4 linked regions of the Homo sapiens genome follow. The protein of the gene in region 2 purifies or fractionates together with the protein of the main gene of each other region. This does not show direct contact. Each region holds a gene or a part of one and is shown on either strand. Other genes may lie near its edges.

Region 1 (3,500 bases), on a different chromosome or scaffold from region 2:
ACACATAAGAAGTAGAAATGGTCCTGCATTTTAGCTGGAGCAGTTTAAAAGTACTCATTTTCCGCACTTATTCCACAGAGCATCATAAGGGTTGTATTCCATGACAGACGGCTACAATACACAGAGCATCAGCAACTTGAAGGATGGAAGTGGAATCGCCCAGGAGACAGACTTCTTGATTTAGGTACAGGCAGTGATCAAAAGACCATGGAGATGAGGGTATTGTTTAGCTATAGCCAGTAATGTGTTGTGTTGGCATCATGAATTACTTGTGTGGGGAAAGTTTTGGTGTTTGTGGATTTTGTGTCTTTTTTTTTTTTTTTTGAGACAGAGCCTTGCTCTCTCGCCCAGGATAAGTGCAGTGGCACAGTCTTGGCTCACTGCAACCTCTACCTCCCGTCTTCAAGTGATTTTCCTGCCTTAGCCTCCCAAGTAGCTAGGATTGCAGGTGCGCGCCACCATGCCCCTCTAGGATCTTGTGTCTTGAGAGTTGTTTTCTATATATACATACGCACACACATACATATATATGTATGTATGTATATACATTATTTTCTTTTTATTTTTTTCCCATCCTCGTATTATAAAGAACCGAGAGAGTTGTTTTATAGTTAAAACGTCAAGTAGCTTTTTGGTGCTAAACTAATGTGAACCTGGAATTTTATGATTTTGAAACCGTTTAATTGTAAACCATCTATCTTTTTTTTTTTTTTTTTTTTGAGACGGAGTTTCGCTCTGTTGCCCAGGCTGGAGTGCAGTGGCGCGATCTTGGCTCACTGCAACCTCCGCCTCCTGGGTTCAAGTGATTCTTGTGCCTCAGCCTTTTGAGTAGCTGGGACTACAGGCACGCGCCACTGCGTCTGGCTAATTTTTGTATTTTTAGTAGAGACGGGGTTTCACCATGTTCGCCAGGCTGGTCTCAAACTCCTGACCTCGGGTTATCCACCTGCCTTGGCCTCCCAAAGTGCTGGGATTACGTGAGCCACCACGCTCAGCCTTATCATATTCTTAAAAAAAATGAAATACAAACCATGGTAGGGGAAACGATGATATTCGTTTAGGGTGGGTTTCGATGTTGAAGAAGTTGATCATGGAGACCATTGAAAGACAGAGTTCAAAGCAGTTACAGTTATTTCATTAGAACATAATATAGTAAGTTGTAAGTTTTTTAAGTTATTTAAAGTGGATGTTTTTATGTAACTTCTTTTTAAAACATAGATATTCCAATGTCTGTGGGAATAATTGACACAAGGACGAATCCAAGCCAGTTAAATGCGGTTGAATTTCTGTGGGACCCAGCAAAACGCACCTCTGCTTTCATTCAGGTTTGGATTTTTACATTATTAGAAGCTTACTAACCTAGTTATTTAGGTCATGGTAGGATTGAATTTTTGATACAGTATCATTTCCTTTAAATGTCTATTTATAAACTATGTTGTAGTGTCTTTCTATATACATAGTTAGGTTTAATCTAGTAAGTTCACCCTATTTTAAACTAACATATATGAAGACATTCTATGATATGTAAAGCATTATTCAAATGTTATTTTTACCACTAGTAGTCCCAATAATGAAAATGTCTATTTTTCATGAGATGTATTTCTCTTGAACACAAGCTGCTATTTAAAAGGATACGATTGAAAAAAGATTGAGGTTTTAAAATTCCTTCTAGCATTATTTTTAAAACATTCTAATACTGAAAAATTCAAACCTCTACAAATAGGATAATAATGATGACTAATTGTCCATGTAACCATCACCTGGCTTTAGCAGTTTTTAGTAGTTTCCGCCCCCTTTTAGTTATTCTTGGAGCACTTTTTTTTTTTTTTTTTTGAGATGGAGTTTCATTCTGTCACCCAGGCTGGAATACAGTGGCATGATCTCGGCTCACTGCAATCTCCGCCTCCCAGATTCAAGCTCTTCTCATCTCTCAGCCTCCTGAGTAGCTGGGATTACAGGTGTGCACCACAATGCCTGGCTGATTTTTGTATTTTTAGTAGAGATGGGGGTTTCACCATATTGGCCAGACTGGTCTTGAGCTCCTGACCTCAAGTGATCTACCTGCCTTGTCCTCCTAAAGTGCTGGGATTACAGGTGTGAGCCACTGTGCCCAGCCTGTTAGAGTACTTTAAAGCAAGTTTCAGGCATACCATTTCATCCATAAATATCATGTCTCTAAGAGATGAGTTTTAAAAAGTAACTATAATATCATTATTCTGTGTTTAAAAAAAATAGTGATTCTAATACCCACAATGTTCAAATTTGTATGTGGTGGAATTTAAACTACCAGGTAGGTAATATATAGAAAAGGAAAACCACTTACTTGCTGACCAGCCTTCATAAGCTATGCTTTGCATGAACTGTAAAAAATCATTTGTATTTTGCATTTTGGTATTCTACCAATATTATTCTCCATCAGTTAATCCCTGGGGGCATGGTTTATATCCGTTGAATATTGATGTAAACTCATACTGTTGGTGTTTGTCTATAAGGCAACTAGTTATGTAGTAAATCAAAGTGATACAAGACCTGGCTTTACATATCAGGTTGTGTTGTCATATTGCAGAGATCAGTTTTAATAGTGAGTCATTAGAAGAGGGGGATGTGCAGCAGTCAGAAATGACCAAGGTCTTGCTGTTAACTCTGTGTGAAACCCTAAGGCTGTCATCCAGGGTGGGTATTAGGAGACAGGGCAGGAGTGGTGGAAGATGAGTATTGCCCTCTGGATCCTGAATGGACTTTGAAGAGTTGACCAAAGAGTTTAGATGGATACAGAATAGGATGGGTAGTGGGTTTTCTGGACTGTAAAATTTCCCCAGGCAAAGTATCACAAATTGGCATCTGTAGGAACAGCAGTAAGATAGTTGGCTGGGTAGAATAGGGGTAATGGCAGTAGAGGGCAAACAACAGAAGCTCTAAACAATGAAGTGAAGATTGCTGTGGATTGAACAGGGCTTAGTACCCTGGGTCTGAGATGAGCAGACAGTCCAAGGTGGAGGTGGGCAGTATACATAGGAAGCTACTGTAGTGTTGTACCCCTGATTGGACCCAAGTCCTGCATTAGAGGAGAGGCACTGTGATGGGCAAGAGCTCAGAAAGTCTGGAGAGGCTCAGTTGGATTTGTGAGAGGGAAGCCATATCTTAAAAACAATTAGGTTCATAGATAATTTGGCTAATATGTGTGATGAGTTTATTTTAAAGGATCTTGAATTTATAGTGGTGTCAGGTCACTCAAGAGGGAACAAAATAGAAAAATAACCAGTGGAAGTTCTTTGAATCCATTTCAGCCTGAATCGTTTTATAGGTACACTGCATCAGCACAGAATTTACTCCACGGAAGCACGGAGGTGAAAAGGGAGTGCCCTTTAGGATCCAGGTTGACACCTTTAAGCAGAATGAAAATGGAGAATACACAGATCATCTACACTCAGCTAGCTGCCAAATCAAAGTTTTTAAGGTAAGACAGAGAACCCGGGTTTTCTGTAATTAAGGCTCAGTTT
Region 2 (3,500 bases):
AATACCTTATCACTAGCTTCACGGATGTCAAGAATGGCAAGACATCTATTTTTTGTTGGGAAAAAGCTGCCAGCGTGGACCCAGCAGATGGAGTGTGGCTCTGAAGCAGTGTTTCTCAACCAGAGGTGGAAATACATAGACGCCCTTTTGATCACGCATACTGCTAAAATTTGGTGCGCCGAGATCGGGGATGCTAACCATCTTCCAACAGGGGACAACGTTCAAGTTAAATTGGCACTGAGTTATTTCCTCAGTATAGTTCCAAGCAAGGTAAATTCTAGTCCAGTGTTACTCAATTACTTTTTCATTATTTTTTATCTAATGAGCCTTTTAAGACTTTTTTTTCTTCTAATCCCATCTCCATGAGATTTTAATACCACAGCTACACTCTCTGTTTATGTATATCTGTGCCTCATACATGAAAAAGTAAGATATTGCCCCACCACCACCAAGAACCAATTTTCACCCCTTTGGGAGTGTCATCTGCCCCATTAAGAATGCATGGTTCAGCCTTTGCTTAGTTTTAAATCTGCAGTATACAATTAGACAACACCATATGGAGGTTTATGGAGTGAAGAATCTTCTACAGCTTTTGCTGGAAAGGTTTGCCAGACTAACCCCTCATGATGCTGGTAACTCCAATTTTTCCAAATGGAAATTTTTCTCTTTTGTACCTGAATTACACTTTATATAAACCCAACAGTTTCTAAATGTTTGCAATGAATATATTTGAATGAGTATATGAATGTATGATGTAAACCATCGAATTATGTTATGTAGTTATTCTTTTTAAAAAGATTAATCTTTACCCTTTAATGAGTGAGCTCTTGTACATCAAGTCATCTTAGATTCAATTTGAAAAAGATACACAACCTTTGGGAGCACTATTATACACGCATCTGTATCTTACGTTTTGTATTATACGGTTATGTGTGTGTGATATATATATATATATATGTGTGATATATATATATATATATGTGTATATATATATGTATGTATATATATATATATGTGTGTATATATATATATGTGTATATATATATATATATATATGTGTATATATATATATATATATATGTGTATATATATATATATATATATATGTGTATATATATATGGGTTTCCATCCACGATTCCTGGCTTATAACTCCCAATGCCCTTGTTACAGTCTTTTGTTACCATGTCGAGGCATTTTAGGCCTCAGAGACAGGCCTCAGAAAAAGAATCTCTCTCACAATCTCTCTGCCCTTCTTTTGCCCTCCCCTCACCTGCCCAAGTCAGGACTATAATCTTCCCTGACCTTTCTGATTGTGGGTCATAAAACCCTCATTTCTGAAGGGATTCTGCCTCATACCCTGGAGGAAGGAAAGCTTCACAGAGAGGCCAAGAAGAATCTGGACAGGCCTTGCTGGGTTTCCCCACTCAGTCTACTAGTATTAGATCATACCCTTTTTGTCCAGTCACATTAATACAGAATTGTCAGTCAGGCCTATCCAATGAAGACTCCATAAAAGGCCCCAGAGAACAGAGTTTAGAGAGCTTCTGAATAGCTGAACTCATGGAGGCTCCTGGGAGAGGACACGCCTGAGGAGGACATGGAAGCTCTGCCCCCTTTTCCCCATACTTTGGGCTATTCATCTCTTCAGCAGCATCCTTTGGTATATCCTCTATAATAAACCAGTAAACCTAAGTGTTTCCCTGAGTTCTGTAAGCCACTCTAGCAAGCTTTAGAACCCAAAGAGAAGCTTGTGGGATCCCCAACTTCAAGCTGGTCGGTCAGAAGTTCCAGAGGCCTGGACTTGCAACTAGTGGGAAGGGCAGGCCAGTCTTGGGGACTGAGTCTTCAACCTGCGGGATCTGATGCTATCATCAGGTAGATAGTATAAGAATTGAAATGGAGGACAACCAGCTGGTGTCTGCTGCAAAACTGATTGTTTGCTTGGTGTGTGGGGGAAAACCTCCATACATTTGGTCACAGAAGTGTTCTGTGTTGATTGCTGTTGTTGAATGGGAAAACAAAAAAAGCACAGTTTGTGTTTTTCCACTGACAATGGGCTATTGTATATATTCCCCGTTTCCCTAATTTAGGGTGTAAATTAGTTGAAAGTACTGATCATGTCTTATTTCTACCATGAAAATATCCCCAGTCTCTTCATATTGTTTACTTTGTTCCTAACCAAGAAAAATTCTCACCTTGGATGTGATAGAAGTCTGGATCCCACCCCTTTTGATGACTATTTTCAGACAAAGCTTTCTACTGCTACTAGTATCTATTTTCTATTAGTTTCATTATTGGAACTGCAGAATACAAAATTTAAAAGCAGTTTCTAAGGATCTACTAAATATTGAACTCTGAGTTTAAAAATGCACTTTACCTCTCTTTAGCCTACTTTTATATTTAGTAAAATAAAGGGAGACTGAAGAGGCAGAACTAGGTCCCTTCTGACTCTATGGGTCAGTCCAACAAAGGTCTGCAAACAGAAAACTGATGTGCGTATTCTTTCTCCCTGTCAGGTGCTGTCTTTACTTCCTTCTCCTATTCAGCATATATTCCATGGTCTACCACTTCAGCCACTTGCTTGCCCTAACTTCTTTTTTTTTCCCCCCCCCCAGAGAGAGTCTTGCTCTGTCACCCAGGCTGGAGTGCAGCGGCGCGATCTTGGCTCACTGCAACCTCCACCTCCTGGATTCAAGCAGTTCTCCTCCCTCTGCCTCCCAAGTAGCTGGGATTACAGGTGCCTGCCACCACACCCAGCTAATTTTTGTATTTTTAGGAGAGATGGGGTTTCACCATATTGGCCAGGCTGGTCTCGAACTCCTGACCTCGTGATCCGCCTGCCTCAGCCTCCCAAAGTGCTGGGATTACAGGCGTTTGCCACTGCGCCCGGCTCCATAACTTCTTAACTGTGTCTCACTACACTTCTATAACAACCACATGGCAAAATCCCAACCCTGGGTCAATACAACTGCCTACCTTGTGTAATCTCAGCCTTTGGCTGCTGCTGGAAAGTGGGAAGAAAATCACACAACTAAGCAGACTGGTATGACCTGAAATTGAATGTCCTCAACCTCACGTGACCCGCTGTACAACAATCCTTGTTTCCCTAATTCTCTCTCCTAGCCTTCACAGGAGCTACTTCAAACCTTTTACTTGTAAATAACCATATAACCATATAATTGCTCCTTCTCCTTTTTCAAGGCTTAACCCAAATGTCACCTGCTTAGTGCAGATTTTCCTGACTAAAATTTTAAAACTGCATCCCCTTCCTCTTTATTTTCTGCCATCTAATAAACTATAAATTTTACTTATTGTTTTGCTTATTATCCTTTTCTGCAACGACAATGTGAGCTCCACAAGGGCAAGGAGTTTTGCATGTTTTGTTTACGGCTGTATCCCCATGCCTCCAACAGTGCCTGGCACACAGAGAGTGAGGAATGAGTTTCCTCTTTCCCAGGGTCAACATTCTACCCGCCGGGCCATTTTAAACCTCTCTCTA
Region 3 (3,500 bases), on a different chromosome or scaffold from region 2:
TCTACTAAAAATACAAAATTGGCCGGGCGCAGTGGCTCACGCCTGTAATCCCAGCACTTTGGAAGGCTGAGGCAGGTGGATCACAAGGTCAGGAGTTCGAGACCAGCCTGACCAACAAGGTGAAACCCCATCTCTACTAAAAATACAAAAATTAGCCAAATGCGGTGGCATGTTCCTGTAATCCCAGTTACTCAGGAGGCTGAAGCAGGAGAATCGCTTGAACCCGGGAGGCGGAGGATGCAGTGGGCTGAGATCGTGCCATTGCACTCCAGCCTGGGCAACGAGAACAAGACTCGGTCTCAAAAAAAAAAAATTAGCCGGGCATGGTGGTGCATGCCTGTAATCCCAGCTACTTGGGAGGCTGAGGCAGGGGAGTCACTTGAAATTGGGAGGCGAAGGTTGCAGTGAGCTGAGATCACACCATTGCACTCCAGCCTGGGCAACAAGAACAAGACTCCATCTCAAAAAAAATTAAATAGGCCAGCCACGGTGGCTCACTCCTATAATCCCAGCACTTTCAGAGGCCGAGGCAGGTGGATCACCTGAGGAGTTTGAGACCAGCCTGGCCAACATGGTGAAACCCCATCTCTACTAAAAATACAAAAATTAGCCAGGTGTGGTGGTGGGTGCCTGTAATCCCAGCTATTTAGGAGGCTGAGGTGGGAAAACCACTTGAACCCAAGACGCAGAGGATACAGTGAGCAGAAATTGCGCCACTGCACTCCAGCCTGCTAACAAGAGCAAGACTTTGTCTCAAAATAAATACATAAATGAAGGGAAAGGGGCAAAAAAGCATATACAGCACTCCTCCAGGCCAGCCGCAATGGCTCACGCCTATAATCCCAGCACTTTGGGAGGCCGACGTGGACGGCATGGTGGCATGCACCTGTAATCCCAGCTACTCAGGAGGCTGACAGGATAACTGCTTGAACCCAAGAGGCGGAGCCTGCAGTGAGCCGACACCGCACCACTGCACTCCAGCCTGGGCAACAGAGCAAGACTCCGTCTAGAAAAAAATAAAAAATAAATAAAAATAAAGCACTCCTGGCTGGGTGCAGTGGCTCACAGTTGTAATTCCAGGAGTTTGGGAAGCCAAGGCAGGAGCATCACTTGAGTCCAGGAATTCAAGACCAGGCTGGGCAACACAGCAAGACCCTGTCTCAAAAAAAAAAACAAAAAACAGTATGCCCCATTAGAAACACTAAGTCTGAAAGAGTCCAGCTCTAGGGATTAATCAAACTCTAGATAGTTCTCTAGTGATCTAACTGAGCCAGTATCATAAAACTATGCGGACAGAACCGAAGATTAAAAGAACAATGAATTAGCAGGCTCATACAGGCTTTTTTTTGTTACATTTATTATAGAATGAAACAGAGCCTTGCTCTGTCGCCCAGGCTAGAGTGCAGTGGCGCAATCTTGGCTCACTGCAACTTCTGCCTCCCAGGTTCAATCAGGCAATTCTCCTTCCTCAGCCTCCTGAGTAGCTGGGACTACAGGCGCCCGCCACCACACCCAGCTAATTTTTGTATTTTTAGTAGAGATGGGGTTTCACCATGTTGGCCAGACTGATCTCGAACTCCTGCCTTCTGGTGATCTGCTCACCTCAGCCTCTGCACTAGGATTACAGGCATGAGCCACTGTGCCTGGCCCTTGGGTAAATTTTCAATGCAACACAATTTCAACAATAATGATGATGGTAAAAAAGCACAAAATACACACATTTTAGGCTTCTTTTCCCTTCCTGATCAACCTTTGCCTAATGTCACAAAAGCATGAGTTTCCTTTCCTATCATTTATAATCCATCATAATTCTACTCAGATGCTTAGATAGATGCAGAATAAAAAGCACCAGAAATTAACCAGATATGAAAAGGCTTTTACTGTTTTATTTAACATATATCTTTAAGACACTGATGTTGTGCATTCAAGTTTATATTATGGTAGTAGTAACTGAATAGAATTTTTAACACTTTGAAAATGTGGATACTCGTTTATAAGTGTTCTTCTATGTAGTTAATATTAATAGAAACTTTTAAAAATATAACCACTGAATGTGTAACAAACTTCCCTTTCCTCAGAAACTTCCCTTGGTAAAATAGCATTATTCAAAACTCCTCAAACAGGTTTATTCTATAAAGAAAATTATGCTATTTACAGAAAACAGTAAATCTAAAACAAGTACAGTGCCCATCAACTGGGTTCCTAATCGGACTAGGGAAGGGGCTCCATCAATTATACAGCTAACACCTCCACGTCAAAAGAAGTACAGGAGATACAGGAGCTACAAGGAACCAATCTTGTCTTTTATTTTCTACTTTTCTATCAAGGTATAACATATACAGTAAGTCAGTCTACATATTTTAAGTGTACACCTCCCTGAAATTTTACATATCAATTCACCCATGTGACCACCACTCAAAACAAGACAGACTATTTCCAACACCTCAAAAGGCTCCATTGTGTCCTCCTACAGGTAGTTATTATTCTGACATCTATCATGAAAGATTATTTGAGCCTGATTTTGAGCTTCACATAAACAGAATCATAAAGGTTCTCTTTCAGAGTGTTTGTCTTCTTTTGCTCAAAAGTACATCTGTGAGGCCAGGCATGGTGGCTCATGCCTGTAATCCCAGCACTTTGGGAGGCCACGGCGGGTGGATCACTTGAGGTCAAGAGTTCAATACCAATCTAGCCAACATGGCAAAACCCTGTCTCTACTAAAAATACAAAAAATTAGCTGGGCGTGGTGGCACATGCCTGTAATCCCAGCTACTCAGGAGGCTGAGGCACAAGAATCGCTTGAACTGGGGAGGCGGAGGTTGCAGTGAGCCAAGATCCTGCTACTGCACTCCAGTATGGGTGACAGAGCGAGATGCTGTCTCAAAAAAAAAAAAAAAAAAAGTACATTTGTGAGATTCATCCCCATTGTTGCATGTATCAGAAGTTTATTCTTTCTCATAGCTGTGCTGTTTTCTGTAAGCATGCCTCAATGTATTTATCCATTCTACTGCTGATACATAGTTGGGTTATTTCTAGTTCTGACTTATTACAAATAATATTCTTAAACTGTATACAGTATATTTCTGCGATGGACAAATACATCCATTTCTACTGGGCATATAACACAGGAAGTCATGTTATATTTATGACTTTATTAGGAACCACTGAACAGTTTTCCAAAGTGGTTGTACCATTTTGTATTACCATCTACATTTATACAACCCACCATACGTGAGTTCTTTCTGCTCCTCATCTTGCCAAAACTTGGTACTATTGTTCTCTTCAACTTACTCATTCTGGTGGGGTGCAATGGTTTTGGTATTTTCTTAAACATACTTCTTATTTACTCTTGCTTCATTGATACTGTTATTCTCCCAATAAATTATTCCTAAAATTGTAATGACTACTGAATTCAGAGATGTTGTGAATTACTATTCAGTCAAGAACTTGCTACCAAAGTTCATTTAGTCTTATTTGTCTTCCTTCTCCCTCCATTTCTT
Region 4 (3,500 bases), on a different chromosome or scaffold from region 2:
ACAACAACAACTGGCTTATATTTTTTAAATGTCAAAGTCAAAAAAACACCCAAAAAAAAGGCCAATAAAACATTCTAGATATGAACAATGTCTCTAACTCAAACTATATTTATTTATTTACTTAATTACTTATTTATTTATTTTGAGACAGGGTCTCGCTCTGTTGCCAAGGCTGGAGTGCAGTGGAGTGATCTCGGCTCACAGCAACCTCAGCATCCTGAGTTCAAGCACGTCTCATGCCTCAGCCTCCCAAGTAGCTGGGATTATAGGCACGCGCCACCACACCAGGCTAATTTTTGTATTTTTTTTTTATACTTTAAGTTTTAGGGTACATGTGCACATTGTGCAGGTTAGTTACATATGTATACATGTGCCATGCTGGCGCACTGAACCCACTAACTCGTCATCTAGCATTAGGTATATCGCCTGATGCTATCCCTCCCCCCTCCCCCTACCCCACAACAGTCCCCAGAGTGTGATATTCCCCTTTCTGTGTCCATGTGATCTCATTGTTCAATTCCCACCTATGAGTGAGAATATGCGGTGTTTGGTTTTTTGTTCTTGCGATAGTTTACTGAGAATGATGATTTCCAGTTTCATCAGAATCTACAATGAACTCAAACAAATTTACAAGAAAAAAACAAACAACCCCATCAAAAAGTGGGCGAAGGACATGAACAGACACTTCTCAAAAGAAGACATCTATGCAGCCAAAAAACACATGAAAAAATGCTCATCATCGCTGGCCATCAGAGAAATGCAAATCAAAACCACAATGAGATACCATCTCACACCACTTAGAATGGCAATCATTAAAAAGTCAGGAAACAACAGGTGCTGGAGAGGATGTGGAGAAATAGGAACACTTTTACACTGTTGGTGGGACTGTAAACTAGTTCAACCATTGTGGAAGTCAGTGTGGCGATTACTCAGGGATCTAGAACTGGAAATACCATTTGACCCAGCCATCCCATTACTGGGTATATACCCAAAGGACTATAAATCATGCAGCTATAAAGACACATGCACACGTATGTTTATTGCGGCATTATTCACAACAGCAAAGACTTGGAACCAACCCAAATGTCCAACAATGACAGACTGGATTAAGAAAATGTGGCACATATACACCATGGAATACTATGCAGCCATAAAAAATGATGAGTTCATGTCCTTTGTAGAGACATGGATGAAATTGGAAATAATTTTTGTATTTTTAGTAGAGACAGAGTTCCACCATGTTGGCCACGCTGGTCTGGAACTCCTGGCCTCAAGTGATTCACCCGCCTCAGCCTCCCAAAGTGCTGGGATTACAGGCATGAGCCACCACACCTGGCTTCCAACTCAAATTATTTTATTTTAATGTACTGGCATTTAGAAGAGAAAAAAGAAATTTCTCTGTCCTACCTTAAGATGTTTGAAATACGCTATCAATAGAATTATTTTCCCCAAAATTCTTAGCAACATTTGTCACATTGAGACCTAAATCTAATTCCAAATATAAGATGTTTAAAATGCAAATAATTACATATGAACTTTAATATCAAAATGCTTTCAGCCAGGCATGGTGGCTCACACCTGCAATCACAACACTTTGGTTTGGGAGGCCAAGCTGGGAGGATTGCTTGAGTCCAGGAGGTCGAGACCAGCTTGAGCAACATAGCAAGACTCCCATCTCCACAAAATATAAAAAATTAGCCAGGCTTGATAGTACACACCTGTAGTCTCAGCTACTCAGGAGGCTAAAGTGGAAGAATCACTGAGCCCAGGAGTTCCAGGCTGCAGTGAGCCATGATAGTGCCAATGCACTCAGCCTAGACAACACAGTGAGACCCTGTATCAAAAATAAATAAATAAATAAATAAATAACTTCATCATGAAACGAAAGCTACAAAGAAAAATAAAGTCACACTGTACTTCCATAAATACATTTAAAATCACATCTACAAAATAATCCCAAATTCTGGCAAAATGAATCATTAGACTACGCTTAATAGTTTTATGAACTTACAGTTATAACAAAAGTTAGAAAGATATTTTGTTAATGCACTGCATACATGACTTCTTTATTTTCTTGTACTCAGTCTATTTTAGTTCCAGAGTGTGTCCCTGTTTTTAAGAACTACTTGCACTGTAGCTATTTTCAAAACAGTTGACATTCAACTTGCTAGTGGCTGACATAACTTCTAGAAAGAAGCATGGGAATGTTCTAGCCTTCTTAAAACTTCAACTCTACATATTACATATTTTTAAATTGCATATTAGTTTACTTTTGCTTTAGTCTTTCCCCTTTATAGATTTATCTTCTTTTTAAAAAGAGAGAAAAATGAACAACATATCCTATATGCCTCAAGTATGCTTTTTCATCAAAATTATTTAAAAATAATCACGTAAGCAACAGAGGCTTACAGATTATCTATGACACAATTCAAGGAGTTTTAGATCAAGTTTGGGGGATTTTTTTGGTTTTTAAATTTTTTTAAATTTTTTCAGAGATGGGGTCTCACTATGTTGGCCAGGCTGGTCTCAAACTTCTGGCCTCAAGTGATCCTCCTGCCTCAGCCTCCCAAAGTGCTGGGATTACAGGCGTGAGCCACTGCACCCAGCCTTAGATCAAGTTTGAATCATAGTGGGCCAGGTAGATCCACATACTCACCTTGCAGTTATTCCCCAGTTCCTTAATGAGTAATTAGAACAGACATACTTGGCAACTGACTCAATGCCCATATAGATTCTCTGATTTATGGCATAAGGAGCAATATGGTATAATGGATCACATAGAAGCCCCTAGGTATTCCTCTCCTCACCAACAAAGTAACCAAAAACAATACCACAGAAATTGGTGCCACAACCAAAGACAAAAAGGTGGTGATAGCTACCACATTCCACTAACTTACCTGTTTGATCTAAATATAAGACAGATGGATCTTGGAGAATAGCTATGAATTATAAACACAGAAAGGTCGTGACTGTAATTGCAGCTAGTATTCAAGATGTAGTATTTTTACGGGGTCAAATCAACACAATTCTTATAACTTGGAAGCAAATGCTTTTTTCTTCCTATTAATTTGCAAAAAATCTCAGAAGCACTTTGTGCTTTGTTCAACCATTACAGTCTTGCTTCAGGTCTATGTTAACACTCTTGCTCTCTAAAATAGTCCAGAGATTTTGATCACATTGAGAAATCACACATCACACTGATCTGCTGCACTGATGACATTACACTGACCGGGTCTGAAGACTGGCAAGTAGCAAGTACTTTAGTTATCTTAATAAGATATATGCAAACCAGAAAGTAGGAAGTTCAAACCCTACTCCTGGGTATCTGTCCAGTCAGGAGATAGAAAATACCATTATTTAAATAGAACTCAGTAGGTATAAAATTGTTAACTAGGTTATTGAAAAGGCAAAAAGTAAATACTACATTATCACAGAGTTCAGTTCCAGAAAGCAGTTACTACTCTGGGGGAACAATAGGCTGAAATTATTAAAATTTAGAA

The links. The genes of interacting proteins can lie anywhere in the genome.
Region 1: the proteins of HINT3 (region 2) and UBP1 purify together in Homo sapiens (affinity purification with mass spectrometry; one large-scale study listed by BioGRID and IntAct). This does not show direct contact.
Region 3: the proteins of HINT3 (region 2) and EDC3 purify together in Homo sapiens (co-immunoprecipitation; one large-scale study listed by IntAct). This does not show direct contact.
Region 4: the proteins of HINT3 (region 2) and TMEM38B purify together in Homo sapiens (affinity purification with mass spectrometry; one large-scale study listed by BioGRID and IntAct). This does not show direct contact.

The regions. Positions count from the first base shown.
Region 1 is NC_000003.12:33,409,406-33,412,905, reverse strand, and holds part of UBP1 (upstream-binding protein 1), read left to right. Parts: intron 1-78; coding exon 79-184; intron 185-1,218; coding exon 1,219-1,325; intron 1,326-3,304; coding exon 3,305-3,457; intron 3,458-3,500. UniProt on the Homo sapiens protein: Functions as a transcriptional activator in a promoter context-dependent manner. Modulates the placental expression of CYP11A1. Involved in regulation of the alpha-globin gene in erythroid cells.
Region 2 is NC_000006.12:125,959,770-125,963,269, reverse strand, and holds part of HINT3 (adenosine 5'-monophosphoramidase HINT3), read right to left. Parts: intron 1-3,500. UniProt on the Homo sapiens protein: Exhibits adenosine 5'-monophosphoramidase activity, hydrolyzing purine nucleotide phosphoramidates with a single phosphate group such as adenosine 5'monophosphoramidate (AMP-NH2) to yield AMP and NH2.
Region 3 is NC_000015.10:74,686,025-74,689,524, forward strand, and holds part of EDC3 (enhancer of mRNA-decapping protein 3), read right to left. Parts: intron 1,156-3,500; exon of another isoform or gene 1,067-1,155; intron 1-1,066. UniProt on the Homo sapiens protein: Binds single-stranded RNA. Involved in the process of mRNA degradation and in the positive regulation of mRNA decapping. May play a role in spermiogenesis and oogenesis.
Region 4 is NC_000009.12:105,701,041-105,704,540, reverse strand, and holds part of TMEM38B (trimeric intracellular cation channel type B), read right to left. Parts: exon of another isoform or gene 2,898-3,500; intron 1-2,897. UniProt on the Homo sapiens protein: Intracellular monovalent cation channel required for maintenance of rapid intracellular calcium release. Acts as a potassium counter-ion channel that functions in synchronization with calcium release from intracellular stores.